Homo sapiens: one gene and its partner. The protein of the gene in region 2 purifies or fractionates together with the protein of the main gene of each other region. This does not show direct contact. Each region holds a gene or a part of one and is shown on either strand. Other genes may lie near its edges.

Region 1 (3,267 bases), on a different chromosome or scaffold from region 2:
GGGTCTGTGAGAAGCAGACAATCACCAAGTGGCCTGGAGACATCCTGGCTTACAAGGAGCACCTCAAGTCCAAGCTGGTGGATGAGGAGCCCCAGCTCACCAAGAGGACCCACAACGTGTGAGCCCTCTACCTGGGTTCGGGTCAGGAGCTCCATCTGGGAACTAACAGCTGCTAACCTGACCAGCCGCTCAGGACAGGACCCTGGGGCTACACTCCTGCATTGCTGCAATACTGCTCCCCCAGCCTCTCCCCTGCCCCTCAACCTGCCTTAGCTGCACTCTCTTACCTACAGCTGGACAGTACCTGTCTGTTTCCTGTCCTCCTTCCAGTTACATCTGTCCATGTCTGGACTCGGCTGGCCGTTCCCTCCAGCCCCTTGCTGGTTATCTTACTCTGAGTGTGATGCAGTCAGAGGCACCTGCGGGTTAGCCCAGGGGCCCAAGCCCTGGATTTGGCCTGCGGAGGAGCTTAGGATCCTCGTTTTCTGGGTTTTGGTGATGTTGGAGGAGTACCCCCCAGCCCACCGCCCCGATTCCTTTTTGCTTCTGGTTTGGAGCTCCGGACCAGGACCTTCGTCCTGGTCAGTTTTTAAATAATTATTTAGCAGTGTAACTTTTAGACCTGCGTGACATCTACAAAGCGCCCAATAAAGAAAGAGGAAGCCACGGTCCCTACCTTCCTTCTCGGGTCTCTGGGGCCTTCTCCTCCCTGCAGTGCCAACATGCACTGCCCACAGCAGGAGCTGGATCCAGCGTCAGTGTGTCGATGGGAACTGAAGACTAGTCCATAGGAGCTGGAAGAACTTTGTCCCTTTACTTCTGATTTGAAATTGTACCTTTTCTCAGGCCTGTGATTCACAGACTTTAACATGAATCAGAATCACCTGGAGGGCTCATGCAATCAGATTGCCAGATCTCGCCTCAGCGTTTCTGGTTCAATAGGTTTTGGGGGAGACCAAGAACGTTAACATTTCTAGCAAGTTTCCAGGTGATGCTGTTGTTGCTGGTCTAGAGACTATTTTGAGAACCACTGTCCAGGAGCGTGGTTTTCTGATTGTGATCTGAGGTTCTGCCCCAACTGCACAGCAGTTGGGCTGCTTGTTAAAAATGCAGGCCAGGTGCGGTGGCTCACACCTGTAATCCCAGCGCTTTGGGAGGCTGAGGCAGGTGGATCACTTGAGCTCAGGAGTTCAAGACCAGCTTGGGAAACATGGCAAAACCCGTCTTTATGTGCCTGGAATCCCACCTGCTCAGGTGGCTAGGGTGGATGGATCGCTTGAGCCCAGGAGGTGGAGGTTGCAGTGAGCTGAGATTGCACCACTGCATTCCAGCCTGGATGACAGAGCAAAACCCTGTCTCAAAAAAATGCAGACTGGCCAGGCACAGTGGCTCACACCTGTAATCCGACTGTAAGCTCATCACCTTGGGAGGCCACTGTAGGAGGATCAATTGAGCCTAGAAGTTCAAGACCAGCCTGGGCAAAGTAGGGAGACCCCTTCTCTACAAATAGTAATAAAATGAACCGGGCATAGTAGCATGTGCCTGCGGTCCCAGCTGCTCTGATAAGAGGAGGCTCACTTGAGCCCAGGAGGTTGAGGCTGCAGTGAGCAGAGCGTGCCGCTACACTCCAGCCTGATGACAGACCGAGACACTGTCTCAAAAAAATAAAAAAATTCAGATTGCTGAGCATCAGACCTATTGATTAATCGCATTTGGTAGAATGAGAGAGGTGCAGAGATGGCCAGGAGTTTGCATTTTCACACCAACGTCTGTGAACCTCTCTTCCTATTGGGATACAGGAAATTTTGTATTTTTACCTGTCCACAGCCATAGTTATCATCACTGTTGAATTCACTTCCAGCCCAGGGCTCTGCATACCTTATCTGGGTCTTTTGAACTTCAATAGCATTTCACCAGTGGCCATCCTTCCTGGTGTGGATTCATCACTCTGCCTCTGAAATCAGCCATCCCTATGGGAAGACACAGCCATGATTTTTCAGTACTCATAATACAGCCAGGACTGGCGGGAGCAACTGTCCCAGATGGTGCTTAAACCCCTTAGGAGCTCATGATCTTCTTGGAAAGCCAGTAAGACAGAACCATACAGGACACAAATTAGATGCTAAATTGTGATTTAGATAGGAGACAGAAGTATTCAAAAAGGAGGGAAATTTCTTGTGAGTAGCTGCCCAGAAAGGTGGAATTGGTGTGCTCTCACTTGAAAAATGAGTAGGATCTTCTCAGATGGCCACAAAGTCCAGGAGCTGCCCTGGGCAACAGGGACAGGAGCCTCCCGTGAGACACTGCAGCTGAGACAGATGGGAGTCCTCTGACCCCAGAGGGTACTGGCTTGACTGCTTTATGCCTTAAGTGGGGCCTGGAGCAAAATGGCCCAGGTTAGTCTGTCCTGAGAGTCCAGAGCCTTGGTTCAGGGGAGAATGGCATCTGGAGAGTGGGCTGCTGGGATAATGGGGACAGTGAGGGACAGAGCCCTTGATACTTAAGGAAGTGCTGGATATTGCTAAGAATTCAGGTAGTCTCGGGATCTCCAGAGTCTCCATACTAGGACAGGAGATCTTCAGAACCTGGAGGAATGGAAATAGTCTAGTCAGCTTATTTGTCAAGAAAAATGTCAACCTTGGTAATTTAAATAATGCTTTAAAAGTCCACAAAATACATATTTCTAAAATTAGCAGTGCCTTGTTTTGGATTGAGAAGTGGCCTGTTAATTCTCTTAAACCTTAGCCCGTAGGATGTGGCCAGCCGTTCAGAGCTGGGTGGAGAGGTAAGTTGATTGAGGGGTTGCTAGCTTTAACACAGCCAGCAGGTGATGCTGGTCTTTGGAACCCTTCTCCCACCTCTCAATTTGTAACATCCTCTTTTCCCCCAAGCCCCTATACCTTTCATATTGCTCCAGGTTTCTTTAATCACAGCATTCAAGGGCCTGAAGTATTTGTTCCCCCATAGGTGCTAAGTGAGACAATTGACTTTCTCCATTTTGCAATGGGCTTTTCTTCCCTTTACTGCTAACTCCCAAGACCGCCACGTCTGCTTTTCTGGTGAGCACCTATTGCTTTTCTGCTTCTCACCTCCTCCAGTGGTCTTCCTCCCTGTCAGCCTCTTCACCACCTGGGGAGCTTCTGCTATCTGCATCTAGTCCAGGCTCAGGCGTTTTGCTCATCTGCCTTCAGTCCAAGCCTCATTATACTCCGCTCACACTGATTCCACTCTACCTTTCACACCGTTTCTTTCTCTCATTCTTCCCAA
Region 2 (3,656 bases):
AGAATGAACAGTCTGGTGGGAGACTGGCCTCACCTGTCTACAGAGATAACAAATGCCAGGCAAGCATGCCAGCTGTCAGGGCATGGTGCAGAATCTGAGGCTGCAGGAGAGAGGGTGGGGCTCCTGTTCTTGGTCTGGGCTCCCTGGTCTGCAATGGCAGTGGCTTAGGGGGAAGGCCCTGGGAAGCTCACTCTGGTGATCCTTGTTCCTCCACAGCCCTGTTCTGTGCATACATGGAAGCAGCCATCTCCAACATCATGTCAGTGGTAAGTGTGGATTCTCCTGAACACTACCCCAAAGTGCTCTTCCCAGAGCTTCTGGACATATGGGGTTGTGGGGTCTGGGAAAGGAACATTGAGCGGGTAATGGTAGCTGGTGCTCACACGACATCTCTGTTAAGGTTTATCTAAGGTTGTCCGGAGGAGGATTGACAATTGCATACATGTACCTCTAGGAGAGGGAGGGGTGTGTGTGTGTGTTGAAAGATTGCAATGTAACTAGCAGTGGAAAACACGACGGACAGATGGAGCTGTGTGACTGGACATGGGGGAACATCCTCAGGCCAATTTTCAGCTCCATCATTGAAAGATTCTGATTGTGGCTCAAATTATCTGTTTTGTTTTTGTTTTCTTTGCAAGACAGGGTCTCGCACTGTTGCCCAGGCTGGAATGCAGTAGTGCAATCTTGGCTCACTGCAGCTCCAACCTCCCAGGACTCAAGCCATCCTCCCAGTTCAGCCTCCCAAGTAGCTGGGACTAGAGGCATGCACCATCATGCCCAGCTGTCTTTTGTATTTTTTTGGGTCTCACTTTGTTGCCAAGGCTGGTCTGGGCTCAAGTGATCCTCCCACCTTGGCCTCCCAAAGTGCTGGTATTACAGGCATGAGCCACTGCATCCAGCCCTAAATTCTTTGACCAACTACTGTGACATTGCAAATCCAGGAATATCAATGCCTTCACTGGAGGGAGGATCTCCATCCTCAACGCCTGTCACATCCTTCTCCCCCAGAGTCCCCAGCCCAACACAGGAAACTAGGAAACTTCTTCAGTCCCCAATGCTTTTGTTTCCAGGTGGGCGTGCCACCAGGCACCTGGGCCTTCTGCCTTGCCACCATCATCTTCCTGCTCCTGACGACAAACAACCCAGCCATCTTCAGACTCCCACTCAGCAAAGTCACCTACCCCGAGGCCAACCGCATCTACTACCTGACAGTGAAAAGCGGTGAAGAAGAGAAGGCCCCCAGCGGTGAATAGCCATGTTCGGGGAAGAAACGCTCTTTGCCTGACCTGATGTCCTCTCCCTGTGTTCTCTGCTCTGGTTCAATCAGTTGCAGCACTCACCTTCTTTGCCTCTCCTTGCACCTGTGTAGAACCAAGCACACCTGTAACTTTCTTTCCCTGAAGCTGATTTTCATTCTCTGCCAGAATCTCCATAACTATCTATTGTGCGACATTAAGGGATGTTGGTATTACAGTAAAATTTCCGGAGTTAGCAATAAGGTGTGTGTCTTAAATGTTGTTGACTTAAAACAAAAACAGTAGTCTTTTGGAAAGGTAATTAACAGGTGATCTTCTTGGCATCTTAAACTAAATAATAGATGCTATAAAATTAAACTTGTTGAGTGGTTCCTAGGCAGACACAGAGTAGGGGGGTAAGTCAGGGGACACAGGCTAGGAAGGGAAGGCTCTCTAGTGGCTGAGCTAGAGACTAATGACCACAAAGAGAGGAATTTCACACTGATGGGATTTTAAAGTCAAAACAGGGACGATTGGGGCAGGGAATTATCTAAATAAGGAGTCTTAACCATTCAGTGGTCTTTGTAAGGGGCAAGGCGATATTCCATAGCAGGGAGGAATTAATAAATTAGAATCCTATATATGACTTTATTATGGAGGATAAGCATTTCTTAGTTTAGGTCAAACCAGCATCTCTTTAAAATTTAATTTTTTTAATTTTAAGTTCTGGGATACATGTGCAGAACATGCAGGTTTGTTATATAGGTATATATGTGCCATGGTGGTTTGCTGCACCTATCAACCCGTCATCTAGGTTTTAAGCCCCACGTGCATTAGGTAGTTATCCTAGTGCTCTCCCTCCTCTTGCCTCCCATCCCCCAACAGGGCCCAGTGTGTGATGTTCCCCTCCCTGTGTCCACGTGTTCTCACTGTTCAACTCCCACTTATAAGTGAGAACATGTGGTGTTTGATTTTCTGTTCCTGTGTTAGTTTGCTGAGAATGATGGCTTCCAGCTTCATCCATGTCCCTGCAAAGGATATGAACTCATTCTTTTTATGGCTGCATAGTATTCCATGGTGTATATGTGCCACATTTTCTTCATCCAGTCTATCAAGACTTTGCTATTGTATACAGTGCTGTGATAAACATATGTGTGCTTGTGTCTTTACAATAGAATGATTTATAATCCTTTCAGTATATACCTAGTAATGGGATTGCTGGGACAAATCAAACCAGCATCTCTAAGCAGAGATTTCAGTTAAGGAAAGTACCTGAGTTCCATGTGTAAAAAGCTTGGGAAATTTACTTCATTCTTCTATTTGCTTGTGAGCATGGGAGGCTTTATGAAGTGTATGATATTTAAAACAAATAGGTAGCCCTGACTATAGAAAGACAATTATCTATGAATTTCATAATTTTGTTTCTCAACTATAGTCAATAGCTTTCATTTGGTCTTTTTAAATATATATATACATATACAAAGATATATATAGATCGGGGTCAGCAAACTTTTTCTGTAAAGAGCCAGATAGTAAATATTTTCTGCTGGGAGGCCATATATTCTCTTTGGCAAAGTCTTAACCCTGTCATTATAGCATAAAAGTAGCCATAGACAACGTGTAAATGAATGAGTATGGCTATGTGTCAATAAAACTTTATTAAACAAGCAGTGAGCTAGATTTGGTCCACAAGCTGTATTTTGCAGATCCCTGATAGAGACAGTCTACATACTAATGCTTACAAACTGGTGGGCGGTGCACAGGCCCAAACAGACACCACCAAGTCCCTTGCGACATAGCAAAGGGGTTTTACATGCTGGTGACAGCATGAAGACCCTCAGGAAATGGAGGATACCCAGAAAAGTGACAGTAGCATGACTGGAATCAGGAGGACCTGCTCTGGGGCTGCTGGAGAACTAGGATACCCAGTGATGTGCACTAAGGGGTGCAGTTTTAAACCAAGACCCGCCTTCTACATTGTCTGGGAACTATTTCTAAGGTTCACTCTTCTCCAACCTCTCACTCTGTTGTTCTCTCATCTGCCAGAAAGCACACCACTCTTGGACAAAGAAAAACTGATGACCCTTCAGTGCTGGAGTTTTCCAGGCAGGAAGGACAGGGAGGTTCAGAGAATCCCAACGTTTGAAGGGAGTGTGAAGATCAGGTGGTCCGATCCCATGATGCATGAAAACCTCTATAATATTAGGATAAGGGCTTCAGTTCTCTGCCGGGTTTCCAGAACAGATTCAATTACCCAAAATGGAGGCAAGGCTCCCAAAGTATTTTAACAACAGATAACCAGAACCAGAGACCCCACTCATTGCCCTAGAAAATCCCCTCCTGTCTTCATTAAGCTCTTTGAGGCTGTCCACCCAAAGCATTGGGTCTGATTGGGGACTGTCTTTTAGCCATGCTTACTGG

The links. Proteins that work in one complex are often made in the same cells at the same time.
Region 1: the proteins of SLC14A2 (region 2) and ABCF2 purify together in Homo sapiens (affinity purification with mass spectrometry, with the first as the bait; one large-scale study listed by BioGRID). This does not show direct contact.

Annotation. Positions count from the first base shown.
Region 1 is NC_000007.14:151,210,909-151,214,175, reverse strand, and holds the end of ABCF2 (ATP-binding cassette sub-family F member 2), read left to right. Parts: coding exon 1-122; 3' UTR 123-2,692; downstream 2,693-3,267. Other genes in the region: ABCF2-H2BK1 (ABCF2-H2B protein), read left to right, coding at 1-118.
Region 2 is NC_000018.10:45,642,916-45,646,571, forward strand, and holds part of SLC14A2 (urea transporter 2), read left to right. Parts: intron 1-216; coding exon 217-266; intron 267-1,070; coding exon 1,071-1,245; intron 1,246-3,656.